Homo sapiens: one gene and its partners. The protein of the gene in region 1 interacts with the protein of each later gene in a biochemical or structural test. Each region holds a gene or a part of one and is shown in the gene's direction. Other genes may lie near its edges.

What was found.
Region 2: the proteins of SH3BP2 (region 1) and TRPV4 interact in a test that uses a peptide from one of them, tested with the Homo sapiens proteins (one large-scale study listed by BioGRID).
Region 3: the proteins of SH3BP2 (region 1) and PLCG1 form a complex in vitro, tested with the Homo sapiens proteins (2 studies listed by BioGRID, with this or other methods).
Region 4: the proteins of SH3BP2 (region 1) and ERBB4 form a complex in vitro, tested with the Homo sapiens proteins (one large-scale study listed by BioGRID).
Region 5: the proteins of SH3BP2 (region 1) and MET form a complex in vitro, tested with the Homo sapiens proteins (one large-scale study listed by BioGRID and IntAct).
Region 6: the proteins of SH3BP2 (region 1) and ABL1 interact in a biophysical measurement, tested with the Homo sapiens proteins (one large-scale study listed by IntAct).
Region 7: the proteins of SH3BP2 (region 1) and YWHAQ form a complex in vitro, tested with the Homo sapiens proteins (one study listed by IntAct).

The regions. Positions count from the first base shown.
Region 1 is NC_000004.12:2,799,305-2,803,425, forward strand, and holds part of SH3BP2 (SH3 domain-binding protein 2), read left to right. Parts: intron 1-4,121. UniProt on the Homo sapiens protein: Binds differentially to the SH3 domains of certain proteins of signal transduction pathways. Binds to phosphatidylinositols; linking the hemopoietic tyrosine kinase fes to the cytoplasmic membrane in a phosphorylation dependent mechanism.
Region 2 is NC_000012.12:109,826,628-109,830,748, reverse strand, and holds part of TRPV4 (transient receptor potential cation channel subfamily V member 4), read left to right. Parts: intron 1-3,146; exon of another isoform or gene 3,147-3,939; intron 3,940-4,121. UniProt on the Homo sapiens protein: Non-selective calcium permeant cation channel involved in osmotic sensitivity and mechanosensitivity. Activation by exposure to hypotonicity within the physiological range exhibits an outward rectification.
Region 3 is NC_000020.11:41,161,112-41,165,232, forward strand, and holds part of PLCG1 (1-phosphatidylinositol 4,5-bisphosphate phosphodiesterase gamma-1), read left to right. Parts: intron 1-1,340; coding exon 1,341-1,425; intron 1,426-1,530; coding exon 1,531-1,614; intron 1,615-1,846; coding exon 1,847-1,881; intron 1,882-2,091; coding exon 2,092-2,164; intron 2,165-2,266; coding exon 2,267-2,368; intron 2,369-2,603; coding exon 2,604-2,722; intron 2,723-2,809; coding exon 2,810-2,895; intron 2,896-2,969; coding exon 2,970-3,090; intron 3,091-3,821; coding exon 3,822-3,990; intron 3,991-4,121. UniProt on the Homo sapiens protein: Mediates the production of the second messenger molecules diacylglycerol (DAG) and inositol 1,4,5-trisphosphate (IP3). Plays an important role in the regulation of intracellular signaling cascades.
Region 4 is NC_000002.12:211,419,132-211,423,252, reverse strand, and holds part of ERBB4 (receptor tyrosine-protein kinase erbB-4 isoform JM-a/CYT-1 precursor), read left to right. Parts: intron 1-1,148; coding exon 1,149-1,246; intron 1,247-2,641; coding exon 2,642-2,812; intron 2,813-4,121. UniProt on the Homo sapiens protein: Tyrosine-protein kinase that plays an essential role as cell surface receptor for neuregulins and EGF family members and regulates development of the heart, the central nervous system and the mammary gland, gene transcription, cell proliferation, differentiation, migration and apoptosis.
Region 5 is NC_000007.14:116,755,653-116,759,773, forward strand, and holds part of MET (hepatocyte growth factor receptor isoform b preproprotein), read left to right. Parts: intron 1-1,784; coding exon 1,785-1,887; intron 1,888-1,985; coding exon 1,986-2,122; intron 2,123-2,806; coding exon 2,807-2,968; intron 2,969-3,684; coding exon of another isoform or gene 3,685-3,738; coding exon 3,739-3,838; intron 3,839-4,121. UniProt on the Homo sapiens protein: Receptor tyrosine kinase that transduces signals from the extracellular matrix into the cytoplasm by binding to hepatocyte growth factor/HGF ligand. Regulates many physiological processes including proliferation, scattering, morphogenesis and survival.
Region 6 is NC_000009.12:130,883,754-130,887,874, forward strand, and holds the end of ABL1 (tyrosine-protein kinase ABL1), read left to right. Parts: intron 1-215; coding exon 216-1,930; 3' UTR 1,931-3,922; downstream 3,923-4,121. UniProt on the Homo sapiens protein: Non-receptor tyrosine-protein kinase that plays a role in many key processes linked to cell growth and survival such as cytoskeleton remodeling in response to extracellular stimuli, cell motility and adhesion, receptor endocytosis, autophagy, DNA damage response and apoptosis.
Region 7 is NC_000002.12:9,620,377-9,624,497, reverse strand, and holds part of YWHAQ (14-3-3 protein theta), read left to right. Parts: intron 1-4,121. UniProt on the Homo sapiens protein: Adapter protein implicated in the regulation of a large spectrum of both general and specialized signaling pathways. Binds to a large number of partners, usually by recognition of a phosphoserine or phosphothreonine motif.

The DNA.
Region 1 (4,121 bases):
GGTGGGATGGGGCCCTGGGTGTGTAAAGTGGAGGGAGGGGCAGTGGCCACCTCTGAGCCCTGAGCCATCCTGGGGTCCTGGGTGCTGGCTTCAGGAAGGTTTGCTACTTGGGGCAGGGGCTCTCTGAGATCAACCTTCCCATTTTCTTGAGGATGTGACCAGGAGGGTGATGTTTTGTGGTCGGGGTGGCTGTGCCTGCCTCTGGGGCAGGAAGTTGCTGGGGAAGGAAGAAGATTGAGAAAGGACCCCCAACCCCCACCTCTGCAGAGGATCTAGCGGGCCTTGCCCCATGCCAGGGTTCCTGCCGGCTGGCATCAAGGGGACAGCTATTCCAGGGCTGGTGTCCTGAGAAGCAGGGGGGACCCACTTGGGACCCAGGCCCCCTCGAAGACCTACCCAGAGCCACCCTTGCGGCAGGCAGGGTCCTGGCCCTTCCAGTACGAAGCTGGGAAAAGGCAGCACCAAAGATGCCAGGGGCGCCTCACGGATCCCCCCGGGGGGGCCTCCTTGAGGGGGAGCAGGAGGAGGGGCCAGGCTGAGGGCTCAGGCTGTGTGAAAGACACCCTGGTTTTGAAAAGGGAGAGGGGCTAGAGAGGTGGGGCCCGAGGGCCTGGTGGGGCTTCCAGCAGGGGCTGGCTTATGTTTTCAAGCTTACTCTGGGGTCTGGAGACCACTGCCGAACATACGCCCTCCAAGCAGTGGCCACAAGAAGACCATGAGGAGCTCGGGCGGGGTCTGGGGAAAGGGTGGGGGCTGCCACAGACAGAAGTGGGTTCGTCGAGGCTGCAGAAGGCTGGGTGGGAGTGGAGGAGGTGACGTGACCAGGATGGGGTCGGTGACCCCTGCACAGGGGCTACAGGGGATGAAAGGGGAGGGAGCAGCAGACTGCTGAGATTGGGGTGGCATTGGCCCTGGTGGGACTGACTGTCCCCGGCTCAGTCTCCCTCCTCCTTGGCTGGCTTTTCTGGCAGACAGTGGCATGGTCCAGAGCTGCCTCCCTGGGGAGGGAAAGGGCATCCCCAAGTCACTCCTGAGGCTGTGTCCCCAGAGTGTCCACCGGGCTGTGCCACCTCCCTGTCTGATGCAGCCTGCCCCTGCCTGAGCTGCCCGAGCCTGCCCCGTGGCTGCTTCCCAGCCAGGAGGAGGCCCTAGGGGCAGACACCGGCGGGCTTGCTTACAGGCCCTGCTGACTCCAGAGTCTTACTGCCACCCGAGCAGTACGTGGAGGTGCTTGTCCTGTGACCGCCCCCCCCCCGGGCTGATGACGGGCCAGGTGGCACTTCACCTGGGGGCTCTGGGGAGGCTGTCTCGGGCTCCCGTGCCAGGGGTGGGTGCAGGGAGGCTGGGCAGGCAGGAGAGCTCAGGCCTCGGCTCCCACGGGTCTGGGGCTGTGGTGGTTGGGGACCCTAACTAGAGCCATTCACCCCTCTGAGGAAGGACCTGGCCTGGAGCGCCATCCCCAGGGAGCAGTAAGGGCATTGGGGGTGTCTTGGGGTGACCTGGCCGGGGGCAGAAGGCCAGGCGGGAGTTTGCAGGTGGGGAACGGCTGGAGGAACTCGTGGAACAGCCTGAGAGGTGTCCGGCGAGGTAGGGCATGGGTGGCCTTGAGCCCTGAGGCTGAGCGGAGCTGTCTTTGAGAGCCACCTCTGCTGAGGCTGCAGCAGAAAGGCTGTGACAGGCTGGCTCCGAGGGAGGAAGGAGCTGGGCTGTGGGCGGCCTGGCCTTGGGAAGGGGGCTGGACAGTTGCATGGTTGGGGGCGGAGAGGAGGAGACCCTGATCCAGACTCCACCCCTGCCTGTCTTGACCGCGGAGGACCGGGGCCCAGACTGCAGGGGTGCAGAGAGGCTGCGGCAGAGGCTGGGGGCTGGGCTCCTTTCCCGGCAGGCCGGGCCCACCGCCAGACCCTTGTCCTCACTGGGCCTCTCTGAACAGTGGAGCGTTGTGAGGGGCCTGGGAACGTTCAGGTCACCCAGGCCCCCTCTGGGCCACGCTGAGGGTGAGGACAGGAGCCAGCGGGCATGAGTCATCCTGTCCCCTGCCCGGGCCCCGAGGCTCTGGGGTTCCCAGGCTGAGGAGGAACACACAGCTCTCGGTTCCCCAACCCGGGGTCTGGCCCACTCCTTCTTCCTTCTTTTTGCCTCTCTGTCAGCACCTCTTCCTGTTGCCTCCCTCTTGCTCCTGGGCCTGCCTGCATCTCCCTTCCCCTGTCCGGCCAGAGACCCCGGCCTGGGAGTGGCTGTGGCCTGCTCTCCCACCCCGATGCCTGCTGCAGCCCCAGCAGAGGGGCTGGCCTGTCGCCTTGAGCCCACCTGTGCTGGCCTGTGAGTGGCCCCAGGAGGAAGCCAGCGCAAGGACAAGACCCAGCCTAGACAGGAAACCTCCTGAGGCCAACCTAAAATTTACTAAGGAATAAAAAATGACAAGAAGCAGAAGGCAAGGGAATAGAATAATAAACCCAGAGAGTAAAAACGAACAACATCCGGGAAAAAAACCCATGTTAGAAAACAGTTTAAAAATATTAGCCAGGCGTGGTGGCTCATGCCTGTAATCCCAGCACTTTGGGAGGCCAAGGCGGGTGGATTAGTTGAGGTCAGGAGTTCAAGACCAGCCTGACCACCGTGGTGAAACCCCGGCTCTACTAAAAATACAAAAATAAGCCAGGCATGTTGGCGCATGCTTGTAATCCCAGCTACTCGGGAGGCTGAGACGTGAGAATTGCTTGAAACTGGGAGGCAGAGGTTGGAGTGAGCAAAGATTGTGCCACTGCACTCCAGCCTGGGTGACAGAGAGACCTGATCTCAAAAAAAAAGGGGCCGGGCGCAGTGGCTCACACTTGTAATCCCAGCACTTTGGGAGGCCGAGGCCGGCAGATCACCTGAGGTCAGGAGTTCAAGACCAGCCTGGCCAACATAGTGAAACCCTGTCTCTACTAAAAATACAAATTAGCTGGGTGTGGTGGTATGACCTGTAATCCCAGCTATAGGAGGCTGAGGCAGGAGAAGTGCTTGAACCAAGGAGACAGAGGTTGCAATGAGCCAAGATCGTGCCACTGCATTCTAGCCTGGGCACCAAAGTGAGACTCTGTCTCAAAAAAATATATGTGTGTGTGTGTGTGTGTGTGTGTGTGTGTGTGTGTGTATGTATATATGTGTGTGTATATATGTGTATGTGTATATATATGTGTATATGTATATATATGTTTGTATATATGTGTATATATATATGTATGTGTGTGTGTGTATATATATGTGTATATATGTATATATGTGTATATGTATATATATGTTTGTATATATGTGTATATATGTGTATATATGTGTATGTATGTGGTGTGTGTATATATATATGTATATGTGTGTGTGTGTGTGTATATATATATGTATATATGTATGTATGTATATCTATATACACACACACACGTAACGTTAGGGAAAAAGGATCACAGCGAATGCATTAAGGCAGCAGAAAGACCTAACCCTCAAGTGCTGAAATGAGTGGACAGAGGGAAGGGACCCTGTTGTGCTGACTCAGCCTTGGTGGGTCCCAGCCTGTGGCACCCGCTGACAGATGGTGACAGGGTTCCTGGGTAAGCGAGGGGCCCAAGGACCCTCAGTGGTGCACAGAGGAGCCATGATGGGGGCCACGCCTGGGCCCCAGCGTCCTTTGCCCTGACCCAGGAGCTTGTCCAGATAAAACGCCGTAAAGTGCCTGGGCTGAGCCCGAGGTGTGTGCAGGAGCTGCATGGTTTTGTGCGGTCCAAGGGAGGCCGCCAAGACCGCCACGGTACGAAAAGTACCACGGTGATGAGTGAAAGGGACAGGCGGCGCAGGGCTCTCAGGCCACTTACTGCTATACGGTCCCAAGGCCCACCCTGTAGGGCTTACACAGCTGCCTACACAGGGTGCCCATCGTGGTGGCTCCTGACCTCTGCCGTTGGCTCTGGGTGGGAGCAGTGGGGCTGGGTTTCTCTGACTGGCGCCCCTACTGCATGCCACCCCAGCAGGAGCCCCAGGGCCTCGGCATCTCCACTCTGTTCCCTTGTTATCTCGCCCTGGTGCTGGGATCCGGGATAAGCAGGGTGCTGTCCACTTCCAGGGCCTAGGGACCCAGTGCTGGGCCA
Region 2 (4,121 bases), on another chromosome or scaffold:
CTACTCCATGCAGGCCCTTGACCCTGCTGTCTGCCTCAGTTTCCCCCATTTGACTTTGGGAAAGACACTCCAGTCCGTTCTCCAAATTATAGGGACCCAGGTAACAGCTCCTCTTGTTGTCACAGATAGGGTCTGGGGAGCCAAGATAACATTTATTTCATGCCAGTGGGCCCTCTGGAATGCTCCACATCGCCCATTTGGAGCAGAATTCACCTGTTAAAGATTAATTCCGATCTCTTGAGATAAGTGGCTGCTGTTATGAACTCTGGGTACAAGGTTCTGTCTGGCTTTAGCCAACCCTGGGTTGCATTAACAACTATTATGATGGTGGCAAGCCTTTATTGAGCACTTACTGTGTGCCAAGCACTGAGTCAAGCACCCTCAGCACATTTGGATACAAAACTATTTTTGTCTCTATTTTTCAGAGGGCAGAATGAGGTCTAGAGGGTGAAATCTCTTGCCTGGGTTCTCTCAGCTGAGAAGGGGCAGAGCTGGGACCTGAATCCCATTTGTGTGATTGCAAATCCATCCCTTCACCTGTAAGGTGGCCCGTCCCCATTTGTCTGGACCCTCATTGGGGTGCCTGGGGTCATGGGGGAGCTACTCTGCAGTCCAGAGATAGGAACCTGAGTTGGCCGGGTGCAGTGGCCCACACCTGTAATCCCAACACTCTGGGAGGCCAAGGCAGGTGGATCGGTCGAGCCCGTGAGTTTGAGACCAGCCTGGGCAACATGGTGAAACTCTGTCTCTAGAAAAAATACAAAAATTAGCCGAACGTGGTAGCACGCACCTGTAGTGCCAGCTACTTGAGAGGCTGAGGTGGGAGGATCGCTTAAGCCCAGGAGTGAGAGGTTGCAGTGAACTGCGATTGTGCCACTGCAGTCCAGAGCAAGAGATCCTGTCTCAAAACAAACAAAGAGCCTGAACTGCAGACAGGCCTGGGCTTAAACTGCATCCGCATGTTTAAGACAGGCCTGCTATTCCCCGCTGGAGGAGCTCAGGGAAGCCACCTGGCCTCTCTGGGCTTCCATTTCCTCCTGTGTCAAAGGGACTCTCATCCCACTTTGCAGGGATGACCCAAGGCACGTGGATGGGGCTCTGAAGCACAGCTCTTCTGCCTCAGCCCGTGTCAGCTCCCCTTGTCCCCAGGCCCATTCCAGGGCATGTTTTCTTCCAGCTTATCCCCCAGACATCCTCAGAGAGCCCCTCCATGCCAGGTGGGTGGGTGGAAGGTATTGGGGGCAAAGCTAGACTTGCATTTGGGCAAATAATGATATGTTTTCAGCAATGAAATATTTATGAGCATTGACTGAGTGCCAGGAGCTGTCAACTTTTTTTACTTTCCTGATTTAATGCTTAAAAACTAGGGCTGGAGCCCAGCTGCCCAGGTTCAAATCCCAGCTTCCAATAAGTTCCATTATTCCTTTGGCCTCAGTTTCCTCATCTGGACAATGGGGATAAGGTAATGCCTGCCTTGCTGGGAGGTTGTGGACAGTCTTCAGCACAACCTTGAGTGTTTAGTTTAAAACCAGCATCTATTGCCTGTTGTTCACTTTTTTTTTTATTTATTATTTTTAGAGACAGGGTCTCAGTCTGTTGCTCAGGCTGGAATGCAGTGGTGTGATCATAGCTCACAGCAGCCTCGAACTCCTGGGCTCAAGAGATCCTCCTACTTCAGCCTCCCAAGTAGTTGGGACACACCCAGCTTATTAAAAAAAAAGGTTTTTTTCAGACAGGGGTCTCACTATGTTGCCCAGGTTGGTCTGGAATTCCAGAGCTCAAGTAACCCTCCTGCCTTGGCCTCCCAAAGTGCTCAGATTACAGGTGTGAGGGCTGATGTTCATTTTGATGGTGTCACAGCTTCCCCACTGCCGGGGGTGGGCAGGGGCAGGAATGCTGAGCCCCATTTTACAGCTGAGGAAATCGAGACTCAGAGAGGAAGCAATTTACCCAGGGATGCCCAGCTGGCTCATGGCAGAGCTGGAGCTGGAAGCCAGATCTGAGTGACACTGGTGTCCTTGGGTCCACGAAAAGCCCAGTGGCCAGCTTAGCTTCTTGCGTGGAAAGCTACGCTAGGCTCACCCACCTTGGCGTCTGAGCCACCTTAGCTTACCTCCCAGCTCCGCCAGTTGCTGCTCTGTGACCTCAGAAAGTGGCTTAAGCTCTCTGTTCCTGGGCTTTGCTGAGGTCAGAGCTCTGCCAACTTGAGGAGGGATTTGGGTTATTCTGGCTGCTGCTCTTGTTCTGGCCTGGGCTCCTTCAACCTCGGGTGCCCTTGCAGCCCATGAGCTGGCACCCCAGTGGCCGGACAGGAATGAGGAAGGGACAGGGCCTCACTTTCAATGTGACTCTGACTTCCTTCCCACCCCTAGCCCCTTCCTGAGCATTGGTTTCCCCTTTCTGCCCCGAGCCCTGGCCACTGCCGGCTGTGTGACCCCAAGGAGGTTACATCACTTCTCTGAGCATGTTTCCTCATCGGTGAGGGAGGATCACACGAGACCACACCAGGCGCACAGGAAGCCCTTGCCGGTCTCCAGATGAGGTCAGGGCATTGGAAAGGCCACAGAAGGAGGCGGGGGCTCAGGGGACAGACAGGCGGGCCATTGACCAAACGGGAATATCCTTCTATTTCTTTGGTTAGTGAGTAACAGCAGCCCCTCTTGTCCACCCACCCTGCCCCTTGCACAAAGAGCTCCTCAGTCTCACCAGGCGCCCGTTTTCCCCTGAGGGTGGAGTGGCCTGGGTTCCACCCGGTTGACCGAGTGGGCTGGCCACCTTCTGGGACCATTCCCTGTGTGTGTGTTTGTGTACGTGTGTATGTGTGTGTATATTGATGTGCGTGTGTATGTGCGTATGTGTGTCTGTGTGTGTATGTGTATGTGTGTATATGTATGTCTATATGTGTATGTGTATATGTGTATATATGTGTATGTGTGTATATGTATGACTATATGTTTATGTGTATGTTTGTGTATATATGTGTGTATGTGTGTATATGTATGTCTGTGTGTATGTGTGTGCATATGTGTATGTATATACATGTGTATGTGTGTATGTGAATGTCTATGTGTGCATGTGTGTATGTGTGTGTATGTTTGCGTGTATATGTATGTATGTGTGTATATTGTGTGTATGTATGTGTATATGTGTGTAATGTGTATATGTATTTGTGTGTAGTGTGTGTGTGTGTGTGTGTTTATGGAGGGTGGGTTCCATGGGCTTTGGGCTGAGACCCCAGCAGGTGAGGGTGGGACAGGGGGCATGGGGTTGACTGACCCATGGGTCTGGCTCACTCCTGTCCCTGCTTGGCACACAGGAGGGGCTCAGGAATACCTGTAGATAGAGTGAAGGGATGAATGAAGGAAGGAATGAGTGACTGGACAAGCCAGCCAGGCAGGGCATCAGAAGGAAGCACCTGCTCAGATACAGGCTCTGGCTCTGAGACCAAGTGTGCTTGAGTGAGTGTCCTGGTCTTGTTGAGCCTCAATTTCTTCATCTATAAAATGGGCTCACGATAGTTGTCCTCATGAGAGGTGTTGGTCTTATAGGCCAGAAAACCCCACACATAGCAGGTGCTCCGTAAGCTGTCTGTTAAAAAATGGATGGGAGGAAGCTAATTAGTTAGCTGGGCAGAGGTTCGCTTTGGAGACCTGTCTGCCCTGGAGAGAATGACTAAGCCCGTCTTTCACTCCTTTCCTCTGTTCATTCATTCATTCATTCATTCATCCAGCAAATACATCTTGAGCAGCTGCTATGTGCCAGGACCTGTTCCAGGCATCTGGGCCTCAGCAGTTACCAGAAGGGAGTCCCTCCGCCCTAGAGCTTTTGTCCGAGTGACATCATTCCACACGCAGTGCTTTGAGGCCACTTTGTGAGACTCTGATACCCACAATGACAAGTAATCCAGCAGTGGGAACTGTGATGAGCTCCCTTTTACAGGTGAGGAAACTGAAGCTCGGAGAGGTCAAGTGATCCGTCTGGGGCCACGCAGTTACTAAATGGCAAAGTCAAGATTCAGACTCCAAGCCTGTCACCACTGTGCCATCTTGTCCTGCTGAGTTCCAAGGGATATGGCGTTGAGAAGGGGGGTCCTAGGGAGAGGGCATGGTAGCCCCCAAAGG
Region 3 (4,121 bases), on another chromosome or scaffold:
CAAGAAAAGGGCAGGGTCCAGTGGCTGATCCCAGACCACCCCCATATTAGAGATTGGAGGGGTCAGGGACAACTAGTGCGGTAAGAGGAGAACCCCCAGAGTGTTGAGTTCTGGCAGCCCAAGGAAGAAGACAGTGGTGAAATCTGACCGTTGACCCTTGGATTTAACATGGTGAGAAGAGCGGTGTCACCCTAGCGGTGAGGGGCTCAAGGGAATGAGAGGGAGCAAGATGACTCTTGCAAGGAGTTTTGCTATGGAGGGGAGCAAAGAAGAGGGCAGTAGCTGGAGAGCTAAGCAGGGGCAAGACAGGTGTTTTTGGTGGAAGAAGTAACAAGCTGTTCGTATGCTGATGGGAAAGAGACCACAGAGGGCAAGATCGGTGATGCAGGCAGTTGCAACCAGAAGGCCTCTGTTTCCTCACTGGAAAACAAGGACCCTGATAGCACCTACCTCCTGGGTGACTGAGGATCAGAGGAGGGGGCGCCTATATAGAGCCAGCCCTCCCTCCGCAGTGCTTGATCCACTCAGTGTGGCGCTCAGCCCCCTCGGGGAATTTTGGTGCCTCCTCCCAGGCTCTTGGGGCCCAGAGGAGGTGGTCCCACCCTCCCCTCCCCTCCTTGACACCACCTTCCAGGAGAGAAAGCCCCCCCCTTCCCCCTTCTTGTCCATCCTGTTGCCAGGTCCAGCAGTGTCCCCAGCCTCACATCCTGGGCAGGACACCCCTGGAGAGCAGGGGCGCTTGTTCTCTCAGTTTCTTTCCTGGAGCCAGGCCCTGTCTAGCCCCAGGAGGTGCCCAGTTGCCAGTCATTGTATTTGGTGGAGCATGCACCTCCTCCTTCCTCCCTCTCATGGGTTAGTGGGTTCTGAGGACCAAACTCCCAGCATCCCAGTGGGCAGCAGGTAGGGACCTGCTGCCATGCTGCCCCCAACAGGGAAGTTGTGAGTGAGCCCTGCCTTCTGTCTTGGATAGGCTGACTGCCACCTTGGCACAGGCCTCAGCAGTGCCGGTAGGAGGGGAGGCCTGGAGTGTGGTTTTTCTTCCTCCCATGCCTGACCCACTTTACTGAATCTGTTCACATCTTCCTTGCCAGAATTACAGGTTTTTTTTGTTTGTTTTGTTTTTGTTTTTTTTTTTTTTTTTTTTGCTCAGATGAGGAACTGAGGTCCAAAGAAAGGAAGGGACTAACCTCACCCCATGGGTTCTGATCCAGTCTTGCCCTCAGGCCTCCAGGTTCCCAGAATAGTGTTGTTTACCTGTCCAGCCCCAGGTGGGCTCGACCCACAGGTCAGAGGTCATGAGAAGCTGGATGAGACCACTGGGGATGTCCCTGTTTTCTCAGTATATCAGCCAAGGACCTGAAGAACATGCTGTCCCAGGTCAACTACCGGGTCCCCAACATGCGCTTCCTCCGAGAGCGGCTGACGGTAAGTGCCACCCAGGGCTGTCTGTAGATGGGGGCAGGGGAAGCCAAGAGCCCTTCAGCTGGGGGCCTGACTGCCTGACTGGCACTCCTGCTCTATACCATGCAGGACCTGGAGCAGCGCAGCGGGGACATCACCTACGGGCAGTTTGCTCAGCTGTACCGCAGCCTCATGTACAGCGCCCAGAAGACGGTGCATGAGCCACCTGCCCTCCCTCAACCCCTGCCCCTGCTCTTCCACCCCACACCCCAGCTCTGCCTGCCTCAGCCCTGCTGCCCTGCTTAGGGGCTTTTGGGTGCCATTTCTCCAGTTCTTCTCCTCTTGAGGCCTGCCCCCATCTGCTGCTCTAGCCTGCCTTCTTACTAGCCCATTTCCCACATGGCCTCCCAGGGGTCTTGCCCTGACCAGGTTCTGTTTCCTGCAGATGGACCTCCCCTTCTTGGAAGCCAGTACTCTGAGGTTTGGTTTGGAGTGGGGAGGTGGGGTTTTCCCTGGGCCCCCTTCATCTCTCCACTGGGCGATTCTTGATCCAGGTGGGAGGCAGTGGGAGTAGGGAACCATGCTGGACCATTCTGGGAAGCTGTGCTGGCTGGGAGTTGGGTTCTGCCTTCCGTGGGGCACCTTGTTGTCTGTTGACCATACTAGCTAGCTTACCTTCTCTCCCTGCAGGGCTGGGGAGCGGCCGGAGCTTTGCCGAGTGTCCCTTCCTGAGTTCCAGCAGTTCCTTCTTGACTACCAGGGGGTATGGCTGGGCTGACATTGGCCCAGGCTGGTAGGTTGTGGGGGGCTGGGCTCATCCCTGACTGGAGGCTTCTCTCATCCCCTGCCCTCCCTACCCCATCAGGAGCTGTGGGCTGTTGATCGCCTCCAGGTGCAGGAGTTCATGCTCAGCTTCCTCCGAGACCCCTTACGAGAGATCGAGGAGCCATACTTCTTCCTGGATGAGGTGAGCCCGATGTTTCACCCATTTTTTGTCAAGAGAATGAGTAGGGGTGACCAGGACCCCACCCGGGCTCCAGGAGCTAGACGCTCCTTAGGGATGCCACCTTGTTTCTACCTACTGTGCACCTTGCCCACCCCCAGTTGGGACAGAGCACTCTCTCTCCTACCCCCAACCTACCATCTTGGGTTGGACAGGGCAGGGACTCACTGTCTCTTCCCTTCCACATGTTTCTGGACAGTTTGTCACCTTCCTGTTCTCCAAAGAGAACAGTGTGTGGAACTCGCAGCTGGATGCAGTATGCCCGGACACCATGAACAACCCTCTTTCCCACTACTGGATCTCCTCCTCGCACAACACGTGAGTGTGGCTCCTTCAGGCCCACCCAGCTTCTTCCCCAGGAGGGCCCATCTGACCATACCTACCTGCCTCTCCTTGCCTATCCAGGTACCTGACCGGGGACCAGTTCTCCAGTGAGTCCTCCTTGGAAGCCTATGCTCGCTGCCTGCGGATGGGCTGTCGCTGCATTGAGTGTGCGTGGGGTCCAGGGCTGGGGGAGGGAAGATGGGAGGCCTGCCCGCTTGACCATGGTGATGTTGCTCCCCAGTGGACTGCTGGGACGGCCCGGATGGGATGCCAGTTATTTACCATGGGCACACCCTTACCACCAAGATCAAGTTCTCAGATGTCCTGCACACCATCAAGGAGCATGCCTTTGTGGCCTCAGAGTGAGTCGGAGGCTGGATGACCCAGGGGTTAACTTGGCTCCAGGTCTCTCGTTCTAGAGGGACAGAGGGCAGAAAGACTCCTCAAATGCCCTGTCCCCTCTCCCTCAGCCTTTCATCTTTGTCCTTCCTCTTGGCCTCTCCTCGTCACCTGCTCCCTGCTTGAGCTGTTGCTTCCCAAGTTACACTTTCTGTTTCCTACGTGTTGGGCCCACTCTCTTCTTCATGGGTCCTTTAGACTGTAGAACACATGCTCTTCTCATCTTCAGAAAACATGCCCTGGTTTCTTTAGGCCAGTGTCCTGCCAACTCCTTTGCCCTCACAGCCCAGAAGATTGTCTCTGTTCCCTGTGTCCCATTCCTTCAATTCTGTTTACTGCTTAAACTGTGGTCACTGGTCTCCCTTAGCTCACCAGGGCTCTAACAGCTAACTTTGGAGGCTTCTCCTCTCTCCTGGCCTCTTTGGTGTGAAACATTTTTCTTGCACTGCTGAGCAGCCTCCATAATTGGGCCAGCTCGGGACTGCATCAGTTGCCACCCTTTGGTTTCCACTGCTGCCACAGCTGTAGAACCCCTCTCTGCCCCACCAGTGGCTATGGCCTGCCTCTTTTCTGGGATAGTTTTTACAGACAAGAAGCCCCCAGGCCCTTGGCTTCCAACAGCTCACTGTGAGGGGCTACTTAGACCCAGAGAATTGCAGAATCTGTTTCACTGTGCTTGTCCCCCATCCCGCAGGTACCCAGTCATCCTGTCCATTGAGGACCACTGCAGCATTGCCCAGCAGAGAAACATGGCCCAATACTTCAAGAAGGTGCTGGGGGACACACTCCTCACCAAGCCCGTGGAGATCTCTGCCGACGGGCTCCCCTCACCCAACCAGCTTAAGAGGAAGATCCTCATCAAGGTGGGGTGGCGGGCTTATTGCGGAAGCCCCACACTTCTCAGTGCCTTGCCCAGGCCATGGCTTCAGCTGTTGGGCCTAAACCTGGGTGAGGAGGTGGGGTGAGGACTGGGGTCTGCATTGCCCTGTTCTGG
Region 4 (4,121 bases), on another chromosome or scaffold:
TTCAGGTCAGCCTGCCCTTTTCACTAAGCATAGTTCTATTTACTCAATATTTAGTTGGAAAGAAACCGATACCTCAACTGTGGTTAACCTTTTTTGGCTTCAATAGTTTCAGAAACACCTGTTTTCTCATTAGCATCTTGGCATTAGCAAGCATTTTTTCAAATGAATGCATATAGAATACAGAGCATTTGAGCTTTGTTTGGGGAGAAAAAAAGCAGATGACATTAATGATACATAAAATGACACCCAAAAAATTCCCAGAATAGGAATAAAAACTGAACTCCCGGAAAAGGAAGGAACAAGCTTTACAGCCTTATTCTATTAAATATTGTTTGGTAGACATCTATGGAAGAAAGTTTAAAAACATGCATGTCTTATATAATTTAATCCTGTAACTAGCATAGGAAATGATTTAAACTCATCAGAATTTAGCTCTGATGAAATTAATTATGTAAAACCAAGAAAACACTTTCCCTAATGGAGAATTTTACCTTTCTTTCGGGGTTTTAATACCTAAGAAGAGGATAATTTGGCAAGAAAATCAAGGAAAGCTTGATACTTTTATTCTTGTCATCTCATTAGCTAAACAGAGCCTGTAGAGATAAGGTCTGCTTTATCTAGACTCCCAGCTAAATAAGAATACATACCTTGAAAATTGCTGATAGTATTTTTATACTAGACAAGCTAGTACTAAGATAAGCTAATGTCTATTGCTGAACAGGCATTACCAATCACTTTGCATTAGTTTTTTTTTTTTTTTTTTTGTCCACCAGGACAAATGTAGCACAAGAAAGTTGCTTTTAATTCCTCTTTTCCCGTTTGTGCCAGTGTAAGCATTGTAACCAAATCTTCTCTCCTATGTCACTCCTAATACAAAATAATAACTTATATTGCAGTCACGTCTATACACATCAGAGAAAAAATTTATCTTTTGTTTTACAGTACATTACATTTAGTTATGAATATCAACAAAGAGACCGATAAAGCCTTACCAATTGAGTCGTTTCTTTCACTAGCTTGCTTTCTTTCTCAGATCATTACGATTAAAACAACATTTTTCAAACTTTTGCTCATATTTTCACAAAATTTAAATTTCAACTCCTTTCTAGTTACGAATATAGTGACATTTTCACTGTGTAAATTTCCAGGTTGGATGATTGATGCTGACAGTAGACCTAAATTTAAGGAACTGGCTGCTGAGTTTTCAAGGATGGCTCGAGACCCTCAAAGATACCTAGTTATTCAGGTGAGTACATTTGACTTATGCCTTTAAGACTAGGCCAATGGCAAACTCACTGCAAAATGAGTAGTATCAGGACTTTGGAACTGTGGAAAGGACCACAAACATGTTGATTAATTAAGCAGAATTATCATGTGACATGACTTATGGAAAAGAGCTTTTTATTTCACGTCAGATCCACCTTTTAGCACCTTCCCTTAGTATTCAAGTGGCTCTGCTACTGAACAGATAATTATGATTATACATATACATAAAGAGGTCTTAATCCTCAGACACTTATTTTAGCACCTTGATTTTATTAACATTATGTGTAAGTCATGTTCATTAGTATAATTTTCTTTTTTCGGAACAAAAGGAAGACAGATTTTTGTTTTAATCTTGCCCATGCTTGAAGACAGTGAATCAAAAGTTTCAGTATATTATTTAATTTCCCCAAAAATATTTTAAAATATGTTTTGTTTTATTTGGAGAGATATGCAGTATCTAAGCAATAACTCAATTCAAATGAATTGATGCACATTTTAATCAACCAACCAAAGAAATATTTTATATTTAACACTAGAAAAATAGATAGACTTGGATAATTAAAAAATAATAATATATTTCTCTAGGATTAATTTCACCTAAACTCTAAACAAATGGGCCTTGGACTAGAGTGTATTATGTTTCCTCAGTAAAGCAAGGTAGCCTTTATTTTCATATCGACAGTCTGACATAAAGATAAAAGCTAGGTTTTAGAAGATACTTATTTCCATTTATTTTTTCCCCAAAATTAGTTTTCATGAACTGAAATTGTTTCCAAAAATTATGTAACTTTAAAAATATAGGAAAAATACTTAAGAAATAGACGAGGTGAGGAAGAGCATAACAAAGGTTTTGGTGTCTTTCTCATACTCCTTTACTCTATTTGCCACTTGCACTGTGAGTTTTGAATGCCCCTACTTTGATAATGCAGTCAGTATGCTATAGAATAAAGTATAGACCCTATGGTCCTGATAATCCTACAGCATCAAACCAACCAAATAAACGTTGATAAATTGATCACCTTTTATTGTTTATTCTTAAAGTTGCAACCCATACACTATCTGGGCAATGAACAATTATTTTCAGACCTGAAATTGATTTTACCTCCCTAAAAACATCTTTTGATTTTGCTTTATTATTCTCTAATGGCATTTATCATATTCTCCTTGTATAAAGTTTGTTTACCTGGCCCTATCATTTCTAAGCATGTTATAGGTTTCTTAATGGCCGGTGGTTGTGCTAAAGACTTGTTTTTTTAAAATGTGTGTATGAATTTTTCAACCATTTGTTATGATATTACATAAATTTATTGCAGAGACCACATATTTAAGATAAGAAAGAATCATATTTGTGTCTGATGGGCAATCTTTCTTTTAGGGTGATGATCGTATGAAGCTTCCCAGTCCAAATGACAGCAAGTTCTTTCAGAATCTCTTGGATGAAGAGGATTTGGAAGATATGATGGATGCTGAGGAGTACTTGGTCCCTCAGGCTTTCAACATCCCACCTCCCATCTATACTTCCAGAGCAAGAATTGACTCGAATAGGGTAAGAAATAATTATATACACATATCATATTCTTTCTGAGATATAAAATCATGTAATAGTTCATAAGCACTAACATTTCAAAATAATTATATAGCTCAAATCAATGTGATGCCTAGATTAAAAATATACCATACCCACAAAAGATGTGCCAATCTTGCTATATGTAGTTAATTTTGGAAGACAAGCATGGACAATACAACATGTACTCTGAAATACCTTCAAGATTTCAGAAGCAAAACATTTTCCTCATCTTAATTTATTTAAAACAAATCTTAACTTTAAAAAACAATTCCAACTAATAAAACCATTATGTGTATATAAATAAATGAAAATTCCTACCAAGTAGGCTTTCTACTTTTCTTTCTTAAAAAGATATTATGATATATTAGTCAAGAAGTAATACAAGTATAAATCTCTTTCACTTATTTAAGAAAAATTAAATATTTTCTGTCAAGTTGAAGTAGAAACACAGAAAACCGTGCAGTCCTTTGAACCTAATCACATCGAAAAGGCTGCTGAGAAGTAGATTTTTGTTTTTAAGAAGTAGATTTAAGTTTTGAAGGAAGTTTCTGAAAACACTTTACATTTTAAATGTTAAACCTACTCTATATGAATTCCATTCTTTCTTTGAAAGCTGTCAAATCCATGCATTTATTTTTATAAATTCATTCCTCATACATTCAACATATATTGAGTACCACTGTATGTGAAGCATTAGTATACATTTAAGACTCAAAGAATTTTGATACAACTTCTGCTTTCAAGAAGTGAAAACCTTAATCAAAGAATCATACAGATAGAGGGACTGCATAGTAAGTGCTGTAATCCAGTATTCACTGACCAGTACGGAGCATGAAGAAGTAGTAAATTTGTGTCTGTAATCAGTTTCTTCCATTGATAAGATATAAACATGATGCTTAATTTTTTCTAGAAGATAATTCTTTTCTCTTAATCTAAGAACATTATCATAGCTAGTAGAACCGACAGCATCCGATTTCTCTTGACCATAGCCATAAGAATATTTTCAACTTGCTGCTCATTATCTAACAAACATAATTTTCTTTATTTCATATTGATTGTAATAAGTAATATTCCCCTGGTGTTTACTATTCAACACATATATGTTAACCTCCTTAATCCTTAAACAAACTTCATGAGGTTCTATTATTATCATCCCCTTCTTTCAAAGGAAGAAACTTGCCACAGAGAAGTCAGGTGATATGACTGGTGTCACACAGCTAGTCAGTGGAAGAGAGGAATAATGTAATCTAGATATCTGCCTACTACACTGTAGGTTTGCTTCAAAGTT
Region 5 (4,121 bases), on another chromosome or scaffold:
TCTGTTCTGTTTTGTTCTTGTAATCCCATTTACTCATTGGATTTGAAGAGAGAGAAAGGTGACATGGCCTAGGTGAAGAGAAGAGGCCAGAAATGGGAGTTTCTCAACCATTTATGCGACAAGTCTTCAGGTGTTGTCTGAGTAGATTTGCAAGAGTAGCACTAGTTGGGATCACTTCATCCTTGGAGTCTTCAAATGTAGAGTCTCCAAAGGCTTTTTCTACAGAAATCAGTAAACAGCTCAGCATGGATCCTCTCTTTTAAATTCACTTTCTAAACCTCAGAAATGTAGTGAGGCAGCTGAATCACGTGTTTGAGACTTTTTTAGATGAGTTAAAATTTATATTCAGCTTATATTTACTGGCACTGCAATATATGGGCTGTATCTCACTGAACCATCCCCACGGTCCTGGGAGGGAGCAGTATCATTCCTATAATATAAAAGAGGTACCTGAAGTTCAGAGAGATGAAGTGTGGCTTCACAGAGGTAATCCAGAGAGTAAGAGCTGAACAAGCCTTCAGCTCAGCTCTGATCATCTTCTGATCCAAGACCCGTGCTAGTTCTACTGTATTCTACATGTACCCTTCTACAAGCTTTGAATTCCATAATCATCAGAGAATCCAGAAATTATTCATTATCACATAATAACAACACTCAAATATTTAAAGTTTTATGGTTGAATCTTTATGATTGAACCCATTCTATCAGGTGGTTATTTTATATCTAATAGAATTCATTTCAGGGTTACACAAAGGTCCGAATCTATCCATTTTACTGAGACCAAAACACTAATGAAGGTAATATTTGTTAGCTGAATGGCAAAACAAATTTTTTCTAGAAATCTCCCTTGTAAAATCTCCAAAACTCTTAATCATTGCATATAAATCAGGACCTGTAAAAGTAAAGCATAATTCATTCTCTCCTTTAAAAAGTTATTTAATAAATCAAATTGTATTTAAATTTTCTCAGAACTATATGATTATTCATTCAGAAATAATTCTATGGAAAGCCATCACAATTTCATTATCATTTAAGTAATTTAAATAAGCATGTACAAGTATAACCACAGAAATGTACCTGTTGACATACTTTAATGAAGAGATTGGCCTATTTGTAGTTAGCCCATTGTTTCATATGCATCTGAAGTGGACCAAAGATTATCCCCAAATATTAATATTATCCAAACTTAGATTATTATGCACTATTCAACTGGTGAGGTCTTTATGGATAAGGTCTGATATTTCCTGTTTGTCTGTATAAGTGCTATAGTACCATTAATGTAAAGTTTAGTATAAGCAGGGTGCAGTGGCTTACGCCTGTGATCCCAGCACTTTGGCAGACCAAGGCAGGAGGATCACCTGAGCCCAGGAATTCAAGACCAGCCTGGGCAACGTAGTGAGACTCCATCTCTACCAAAAAAAAAAAAAAATTTTTTTTTAATTAACCAGATGCCGTGGCATGCACCTCTAGTTCCAACTCCTGAGTCCAGAGGATCCCTTGAGCCCAGGAGTTCAAGGCTGCAGTGAGCTATGACTATGCCACTGCCCTCCAGCCTGGGTGACAGAGCAAGATCCTGTCTCTTTTTACATAAAAATAAAAGTTAAGTTTATCATAGTATAGAAATAGGATTATATAATTTTTGGCCTTAATGCTTATCTTGAAACTCTGCTTGCTATTCAAAGCAGTCAGCTCACCATTTAGAGTTAATGTCACTTCCTATAAAACAACCTAACCAGAAAATTCCTTGGATTTGTCATGTATTAAACTTTGGGTTTTTTTTCCAGATTGAAATGCACAGTTGGTCCTGCCATGAATAAGCATTTCAATATGTCCATAATTATTTCAAATGGCCACGGGACAACACAATACAGTACATTCTCCTATGTGGTAAGGAAGATTCTATCCTATCATGTTTGATTTTTACTTAATCTATTTAAATTATAAGATGAACAAGTTACTTTGTTTTGTTTTTATCTCCCCTCCAGGATCCTGTAATAACAAGTATTTCGCCGAAATACGGTCCTATGGCTGGTGGCACTTTACTTACTTTAACTGGAAATTACCTAAACAGTGGGAATTCTAGACACATTTCAATTGGTGGAAAAACATGTACTTTAAAAAGGTGTTGTAAATTTATTTTTTGTTGCATCTGTCAATTTGAATTAATATCTGTACCTTAAAAATTAAGCAGATTGTTTTGTGTGTGTGTGTGGAGAAGAAAAATCAAGATGTTTATTTGTTTACTCTCCTACTGACAAAACTTCCTCCTTCCAAAATTCATCTACTCCTTTTGCTGATTTTTCTTCCTTTCTCTTGTTTTTTAGCAATCCTACTTTTCAGTTTTGTCTTCCCATCCACCCTCTTTATTGTTATAGCTTAGGATCTTAGCTATACTATGAGCTGTGAGAGTCTGGTCATTGATAATAATTTAAAATAAACATTTTCATCAAGATTTGTAATTAGACTAAGTCACTCTGGGGAAGGAAGAAATGGGGAAAATTGGGTCTGGAAGACAGTTATGTTTCTGCTTCTTAGAGTTGGAAGAGCTCAGTTTAATCAAGTACCAAAAGTACTTTAAAGGTTTTTTTTTCAAATCTCAAATGTTTTCCAGTCAAGGATAGCTTGTCCACAACAAAGGTAAGTTTGAGATCCAGTCAGATTAAACAGCCTACACTAGAAAAGGCTTCCACTCAGGAAATTCCCACTTAGGAACCATTGAGTTATATCCTTTTGATTTGTGGATATAATTCTAAAATATGTGTATCTCTAATAGCTAAAATTCACTTCCTTAATTTTTTTTGTTCAGTGTGTCAAACAGTATTCTTGAATGTTATACCCCAGCCCAAACCATTTCAACTGAGTTTGCTGTTAAATTGAAAATTGACTTAGCCAACCGAGAGACAAGCATCTTCAGTTACCGTGAAGATCCCATTGTCTATGAAATTCATCCAACCAAATCTTTTATTAGGTAAGTAGAAGCTTCTGATGGGTATAAGAAAACAATGAATACAAGGATGATTTTGCTGTAGAATAGTCAAGAGGAATTGCAGTTTTATCTCTGGCTTTGATGCTGTTATGTTGCTTTTGAAGGCTTCTTTCCAATTCAGGAGAGAAAACTATATTCAGGTTCTGAGTGTAGTTTGACTTATCAATGCTAGTTCATTCCAAGAAGTATCTTATCCTGTTCTATTACATTTAAACAGAGTATAGCAAAATAGTTTAATGTGGCATTGTAGTATACATGCACTTACATTATGTACATATCAATTCTATACTAACCTTAGTGCCCAGAAGTGGAATTACCTTTTTTCTTCCATTCTCTAGATATGTTTTTGTCCTGCCTGCTTTACACACAGCTTTTCTTTATGCCAGACTCTCTTTGAATTGATATCTCATTGGACCCAGTTCAATCTGCCTTGTTTCCGTTAATTCTATCAGTCTAGCAACAATAGTTAAGTTCGGTTTTCTTTGTATTTTTTTCAGAGGTGAAATATTTATTTTGTGTAATTCGGTGAATAAAATACAAATGCATTTCTTAAGCTTATGAAATATGCATTTTAAAAATATTTTCAAGTTAAATAAGTTGTTTCCAAAGAACAGTTACCCATGAACTTCCATTTGATGTTGACTGTGCCTCTGACCTGTAATCAGTGCAGGTGATTAAATTGAATCCCTCTCTTACAGTACTTGGTGGAAAGAACCTCTCAACATTGTCAGTTTTCTATTTTGCTTTGCCAGTGGTGGGAGCACAATAACAGGTGTTGGGAAAAACCTGAATTCAGTTAGTGTCCCGAGAATGGTCATAAATGTGCATGAAGCAGGAAGGAACTTTACAGTGGTAAGTCCTTTGAGCAATGGTTCTACTCAGAGCTCTGCATCTTTGCCTCTAACCATGTGGCTTTCATGGTACCTGAGACATCTCAGTTTCGCCTTTAAGGTTTGCTAGTTAATTTCCTTGCAGTGTAGCCAAGTAGTATTTTTTATTTAATAACTGAAATTATCTAGAGTCTTGGGCTAACCATGTGGAAAAAATACATACACATACACACATGCACATATAATGTTTAGACAAGAATGAAGATTACCAATTTGAGACAGTGTTTTTTTATGTTTGTTGGTTG
Region 6 (4,121 bases), on another chromosome or scaffold:
GGGGAAGGGACAATGGGCCATTATGCACAGGAGATAAGAAGGGATGACCTTTGACAATTTTTTTGTTTGTTTGTTTGTTTGTTTTGAGATGGAGTCTCACTCTGTCTCCTGGGCTGGAGTGCAGCAGTGGCACTCTGCCTCCCGGGTTCAAGCGATTCTCCTCTGTCAGCCTCTAGAGTTGTCTGGAGTTGTCAGCTCTTCCCCTTGCGTTTCAGATCCTCTGGACCATGAGCCTGCCGTGTCTCCATTGCTCCCTCGAAAAGAGCGAGGTCCCCCGGAGGGCGGCCTGAATGAAGATGAGCGCCTTCTCCCCAAAGACAAAAAGACCAACTTGTTCAGCGCCTTGATCAAGAAGAAGAAGAAGACAGCCCCAACCCCTCCCAAACGCAGCAGCTCCTTCCGGGAGATGGACGGCCAGCCGGAGCGCAGAGGGGCCGGCGAGGAAGAGGGCCGAGACATCAGCAACGGGGCACTGGCTTTCACCCCCTTGGACACAGCTGACCCAGCCAAGTCCCCAAAGCCCAGCAATGGGGCTGGGGTCCCCAATGGAGCCCTCCGGGAGTCCGGGGGCTCAGGCTTCCGGTCTCCCCACCTGTGGAAGAAGTCCAGCACGCTGACCAGCAGCCGCCTAGCCACCGGCGAGGAGGAGGGCGGTGGCAGCTCCAGCAAGCGCTTCCTGCGCTCTTGCTCCGCCTCCTGCGTTCCCCATGGGGCCAAGGACACGGAGTGGAGGTCAGTCACGCTGCCTCGGGACTTGCAGTCCACGGGAAGACAGTTTGACTCGTCCACATTTGGAGGGCACAAAAGTGAGAAGCCGGCTCTGCCTCGGAAGAGGGCAGGGGAGAACAGGTCTGACCAGGTGACCCGAGGCACAGTAACGCCTCCCCCCAGGCTGGTGAAAAAGAATGAGGAAGCTGCTGATGAGGTCTTCAAAGACATCATGGAGTCCAGCCCGGGCTCCAGCCCGCCCAACCTGACTCCAAAACCCCTCCGGCGGCAGGTCACCGTGGCCCCTGCCTCGGGCCTCCCCCACAAGGAAGAAGCTGGAAAGGGCAGTGCCTTAGGGACCCCTGCTGCAGCTGAGCCAGTGACCCCCACCAGCAAAGCAGGCTCAGGTGCACCAGGGGGCACCAGCAAGGGCCCCGCCGAGGAGTCCAGAGTGAGGAGGCACAAGCACTCCTCTGAGTCGCCAGGGAGGGACAAGGGGAAATTGTCCAGGCTCAAACCTGCCCCGCCGCCCCCACCAGCAGCCTCTGCAGGGAAGGCTGGAGGAAAGCCCTCGCAGAGCCCGAGCCAGGAGGCGGCCGGGGAGGCAGTCCTGGGCGCAAAGACAAAAGCCACGAGTCTGGTTGATGCTGTGAACAGTGACGCTGCCAAGCCCAGCCAGCCGGGAGAGGGCCTCAAAAAGCCCGTGCTCCCGGCCACTCCAAAGCCACAGTCCGCCAAGCCGTCGGGGACCCCCATCAGCCCAGCCCCCGTTCCCTCCACGTTGCCATCAGCATCCTCGGCCCTGGCAGGGGACCAGCCGTCTTCCACCGCCTTCATCCCTCTCATATCAACCCGAGTGTCTCTTCGGAAAACCCGCCAGCCTCCAGAGCGGATCGCCAGCGGCGCCATCACCAAGGGCGTGGTCCTGGACAGCACCGAGGCGCTGTGCCTCGCCATCTCTAGGAACTCCGAGCAGATGGCCAGCCACAGCGCAGTGCTGGAGGCCGGCAAAAACCTCTACACGTTCTGCGTGAGCTATGTGGATTCCATCCAGCAAATGAGGAACAAGTTTGCCTTCCGAGAGGCCATCAACAAACTGGAGAATAATCTCCGGGAGCTTCAGATCTGCCCGGCGACAGCAGGCAGTGGTCCAGCGGCCACTCAGGACTTCAGCAAGCTCCTCAGTTCGGTGAAGGAAATCAGTGACATAGTGCAGAGGTAGCAGCAGTCAGGGGTCAGGTGTCAGGCCCGTCGGAGCTGCCTGCAGCACATGCGGGCTCGCCCATACCCGTGACAGTGGCTGACAAGGGACTAGTGAGTCAGCACCTTGGCCCAGGAGCTCTGCGCCAGGCAGAGCTGAGGGCCCTGTGGAGTCCAGCTCTACTACCTACGTTTGCACCGCCTGCCCTCCCGCACCTTCCTCCTCCCCGCTCCGTCTCTGTCCTCGAATTTTATCTGTGGAGTTCCTGCTCCGTGGACTGCAGTCGGCATGCCAGGACCCGCCAGCCCCGCTCCCACCTAGTGCCCCAGACTGAGCTCTCCAGGCCAGGTGGGAACGGCTGATGTGGACTGTCTTTTTCATTTTTTTCTCTCTGGAGCCCCTCCTCCCCCGGCTGGGCCTCCTTCTTCCACTTCTCCAAGAATGGAAGCCTGAACTGAGGCCTTGTGTGTCAGGCCCTCTGCCTGCACTCCCTGGCCTTGCCCGTCGTGTGCTGAAGACATGTTTCAAGAACCGCATTTCGGGAAGGGCATGCACGGGCATGCACACGGCTGGTCACTCTGCCCTCTGCTGCTGCCCGGGGTGGGGTGCACTCGCCATTTCCTCACGTGCAGGACAGCTCTTGATTTGGGTGGAAAACAGGGTGCTAAAGCCAACCAGCCTTTGGGTCCTGGGCAGGTGGGAGCTGAAAAGGATCGAGGCATGGGGCATGTCCTTTCCATCTGTCCACATCCCCAGAGCCCAGCTCTTGCTCTCTTGTGACGTGCACTGTGAATCCTGGCAAGAAAGCTTGAGTCTCAAGGGTGGCAGGTCACTGTCACTGCCGACATCCCTCCCCCAGCAGAATGGAGGCAGGGGACAAGGGAGGCAGTGGCTAGTGGGGTGAACAGCTGGTGCCAAATAGCCCCAGACTGGGCCCAGGCAGGTCTGCAAGGGCCCAGAGTGAACCGTCCTTTCACACATCTGGGTGCCCTGAAAGGGCCCTTCCCCTCCCCCACTCCTCTAAGACAAAGTAGATTCTTACAAGGCCCTTTCCTTTGGAACAAGACAGCCTTCACTTTTCTGAGTTCTTGAAGCATTTCAAAGCCCTGCCTCTGTGTAGCCGCCCTGAGAGAGAATAGAGCTGCCACTGGGCACCTGCGCACAGGTGGGAGGAAAGGGCCTGGCCAGTCCTGGTCCTGGCTGCACTCTTGAACTGGGCGAATGTCTTATTTAATTACCGTGAGTGACATAGCCTCATGTTCTGTGGGGGTCATCAGGGAGGGTTAGGAAAACCACAAACGGAGCCCCTGAAAGCCTCACGTATTTCACAGAGCACGCCTGCCATCTTCTCCCCGAGGCTGCCCCAGGCCGGAGCCCAGATACGGGGGCTGTGACTCTGGGCAGGGACCCGGGGTCTCCTGGACCTTGACAGAGCAGCTAACTCCGAGAGCAGTGGGCAGGTGGCCGCCCCTGAGGCTTCACGCCGGGAGAAGCCACCTTCCCACCCCTTCATACCGCCTCGTGCCAGCAGCCTCGCACAGGCCCTAGCTTTACGCTCATCACCTAAACTTGTACTTTATTTTTCTGATAGAAATGGTTTCCTCTGGATCGTTTTATGCGGTTCTTACAGCACATCACCTCTTTGCCCCCGACGGCTGTGACGCAGCCGGAGGGAGGCACTAGTCACCGACAGCGGCCTTGAAGACAGAGCAAAGCGCCCACCCAGGTCCCCCGACTGCCTGTCTCCATGAGGTACTGGTCCCTTCCTTTTGTTAACGTGATGTGCCACTATATTTTACACGTATCTCTTGGTATGCATCTTTTATAGACGCTCTTTTCTAAGTGGCGTGTGCATAGCGTCCTGCCCTGCCCCCTCGGGGGCCTGTGGTGGCTCCCCCTCTGCTTCTCGGGGTCCAGTGCATTTTGTTTCTGTATATGATTCTCTGTGGTTTTTTTTGAATCCAAATCTGTCCTCTGTAGTATTTTTTAAATAAATCAGTGTTTACATTAGAATTCTTGGCAGATTGCTTCGGCCTGTGATCCTGCCCTGTTGTTCTGAGCCTGTGCGGTGGCGGGGCCGGGATGTAGTGGGTTCTGGTTTCCCGACGGGGCTGGGGCCCGGCATCAGGTCTTACAGAGCAGAACGGTGGCAGGTTGCCCCCAGCTGCCCAGGGCCTCTGCGGCCTGGGTGCCCACAGCCATCTTTCAGGCA
Region 7 (4,121 bases), on another chromosome or scaffold:
GCCTTGGATTAGTCCATAAATAAAATGAGCTGTATTAAGTTGTATTGGATTGTGTCATGCTGTCCTTTGGCTTCTTCCTAACGTGTTGATATCTTACCTGAACCTCTTGTCTAGCTAGACTTGTCATTTTTCCCCTTGTCATTATTGTGTGTATGCTGTTCAAACTCTACAGTTCACCTTACTGAAACTTATTCAGTGGGTCCTATTTTTTGTTTGGTTTGATTTGATTTGTTTTTATTTTTGAGACAGAGTCTGGCTCTGTGGCCTAGGCTGGAGTGCAGTTGCGCCATCTGGGCTCACTGCAACCTCCACCTCCCGGGCTCGAGCCATCCTCCCACCTCAGCATCCGGAGTAGCTGGGACTACAGGCACTTGCCACTATGCCTGGCTAATTTTTGTATTTTTTGTAGAGATGAAGTTTTGCCATGTTGCCCAGGCTGGTCTTGAACTCCTGAGCTCAAGCAATCCACCCAGAGTGCTGAGATTACAGGCGTGAACCACTGTGTCTGGCCGGGTCCTATATTTTCAAAGTGCCACTTCTTCATAGTTGTCTCCAAAGCCCTGAGCTCTTTTAAAGACTTCGCACAGACTGCAATTATATTGAAATCTATTAGATGCAGTGAAAATTGATGAACGGCAAATCTCCTCCCCTCCTTCATAGTAGCTTGGCATATGTGGTTCAGACTTTTTAAATTTAATTTTATTTATTTATTTATTTATTTTGTTGAGACAGAGTTTTGCTCTTGTTGCCCAGGCTAGAGTGCAGTGGCGCAATCTTGGTTCACCTCAACCTCTGCCTCCGGGTTCAAGCAATTCTCCTGTGTCAGCCTCACAAGTAGTTGGGATTACAGGCATGCACCACCACACCCGGCTAATTTTGTATTTTTAGTAGAGACGAGGTTTCTCCGTGTTGGTCAGGTTGGTCTCAAACTCCCGACCTCAGGTGATCCTCCCGCCTCGGCTTCCCAAAGTGCTGGGATTATAGGCGTGAGCCACTGCACCCGGCCGTGGTTCAGACTTTTAATGCAGTGGTGAACACTGTCAACAATTTTTCTCCAAACAACCCCTGGGAAGAAGATCGTTGTTGCATGCTTTATGCTAGGATTTACTTAAGTTCTCGAAGTGGAATTTCCAAATCAAAAGATGTGCGGTTTTTTCCAGATAGCCTTCTGAAAAGGTATGTGTATACACTGTCATCAGCAGTGGTTGAGAAGGTCATTCATTTCCCCTAACCCTTTCCAGCACAAGCAAGTTTTTAAGGCTAACAAAAATCTGGTGACCAGAAGGTTTAACGTCTTATCTCCTTGTTCAGTATTGGATGTATGAGGACCACCTCCCTTCTCACAAAGGACTGCTTAAGAAAACTAGTATTTTTAAGTCTCATGTAGTTTCATTTAGAACATGATACCATAGCATGGGATTAGTTCAGTCAAGGTGTTGCTTTGGCAGTTGGGAAATCTGGTTGGCTATGGTAATGTTCTCTATTTTTATCATTAAGACCAGTTTTTGTATTTAACACTAATCCTTTCCAAATGGCAACAGAAAACGTATCTGAATTCATACCACTGACTTTCTGGATATCAGGGAGGTGGTAGAGAGACATCATTTAAAAGATGTGAAGAGAAGCAAAGTTTATCCATTGCTACTTTAATTAAACTCTTAATCCATAGATAAGTCAGTGATAAATATGATAAATTACTAGATTTGAAACTATTGTTTGCATATTGAGTATTTAAAGACAAAATGATGATAATACCTAGGACTTCAGAGTAATTGGGGGAATACAGATGAAACAGGAGTGTCTATGAATTAATATAGTTGCAGCTGGCTTTAATTGGAATTCATTGTACTATTCTTTGTTCTCCTGTGTACCTTTAAAATTCCCTATTATAAGTTTTTCCTCCCCTAGAAATTCCACTCTTAGGTGTTTACGCAAGAGGGAATGATGCATGGGGCCAAGGCGCATAGGTACAAAAATGTTAATAACAGCTTTATTCTAAGAGCAGAAAACTAGAAATAATCCACTAGTAGGAAAATTGATAAACACTGATGTATTCATAAATGGAATACTATTCAGCATTAAAATGAATGGACCACTGATACTACAATATGATTGAATTTCAAAAACATGCTAGGTGAAAGAAACTTTGCATGAAAAAGTACATAGTGTATGTGATTCCATTTATATGAAATTTTAGAACAAACACAACCTGTTTATGGTAGGAAAAAAAATCAGGAATAATGGCCTCTGTGGGAGAATAGGCAGAGATTGGGAAGGGGCAGGCTTCTGGGATAATTGTATTTTTTTTTTTTTTTAATACTTTAAGTTCTGGGATACAAGTGCAGGACGTGCAGGTTTCTTTCATAGGTATACATGTGCCATGGTGGTTTGCTGCACCCATCAGCCCGTCATCTACATTAGGTATTTCTCCAATGCTATTCCTCCCCTAGCCCCCGACGCCCTGACAGTCCCCGCTGTGTGATGTTCCCCTCCTTGTGTCCATGTGTTCTCATTGTTCAACTCCCACTTGTAAGTGAAAACATGCGGTGCTTGGTTTTCTGTTCCTGTGTTAGTTTGCTGAGAATGATGGTTTCCAGCTTCATCTATGTCCTTGCAAAGGACATGAACTCATCCTTTTTATGGTTGCATAGTATTCCATGGTGTATATATGCCACATTTTCTTGATCCAGTTTATCGTTGATGGGCATTTGGGTTGGTTCCAAGTCTTTGCTATTGTGAATAGTGCTGCAATAAACGTATGTGTGCATGTGTCTTTATAGTAGAATGGATAATTGTATTCTTTAGTTGATATGGGTTTGGGTTTTATACATTTGTCAAAACTCAGCAAATGTACACCCAAGATTTGTGCATTTTGTATGTAAATTTTGCTTTGAAAAAAAACTAGTGATATGCCTGTACTTATGTCTTCAGCTTGTAACTGCTAGAAATGTATGGGTATCTGAAAAAGCAAGTATGGCAAAAGGTTAATGGTAAGATCCAGGTGGTGGATATGTGGGGGTGTTCACTGTAATTGTTGGTTGCCATGTATTGGGGGTTATGATATTTCACATCACTGGTTGAGTGTCTTTAATACATATAGCAAGAAGATAGTGTGTAGCCTGTGTCTTGTTATCCTCAAGATACGAGAATGTATAGAACGGTATTGATCCCCACTTAGGAGACATCACTGGCACCATCACTTTTTTGTTTGGGTGATGAGTGCTAAGTAGATTGATGGAGTTACCAGATGCTGTGTAAGACGTCTTAATTGGCCATACTCTGGGACAGTGGTTCACAAATTTGATCTCAGGACCCCTTTTTAGAAAATAAAATAACTTTAACAAAAAATTGAATGAGAATAGCGGCATTGCATTTCATTCAACCTATTGTAGTATTCCACCTCCTGTAGCTTCTGGAAAACTCCACTTGTGAGAAAATGACAGTGGAAAAAAAGCAAATATCTTAGACTTATGAAAGTGGTTTTACTTTGTCTCCTCTCCACCCCACAAAGGATATAGGGGAGACCTCTAGGGGTTCCCAGACTATACTTTGCCCTATGAGAATTTAATTACTGAAGTTAATAGTAGAACTGCTGTTCTACGAGAATTTTATTACTGTGTTTGGGTGATTGAGCAGTTTATTTTCTGAGTAGTCATCATATGTGGTGATAATGGAATTTGTAAAACCTTCCCCACCCTTCCCATTTCTCTGCCCCTGCACCCCATCTTATCCCTAGGAATATAGGTTTGAAGACCAGGAAAATCACAGATGTGATAATGAAGAAAGGAGAATAGTTGATATTAGACATTGGGTAATAAAAGTCCCTGTTAATTCCTGGAAACCAGCTAAAGATCTGGTATGTTGGAATGTCTTTCTGCTTTCTTGTGTTGAGAAGGATAATATGAAGTTAATAATCTCTTAACTTGCCCCTCCCAATACCTGACCAAAAAGCAGAGTTGACATCCATGAAAAATATGGATAATGGTCTTTCAGAGCTGGTTGCATTTAAGTTTTAAAAATACACAGCTTTTGGAGGCAGTAAGTCAGGTTAGCTGTTAACCAGCATTGGTCAAAGTATTTATCAGTGAAACTTGTCTTCATACCAACCTTTGATTGTCAGT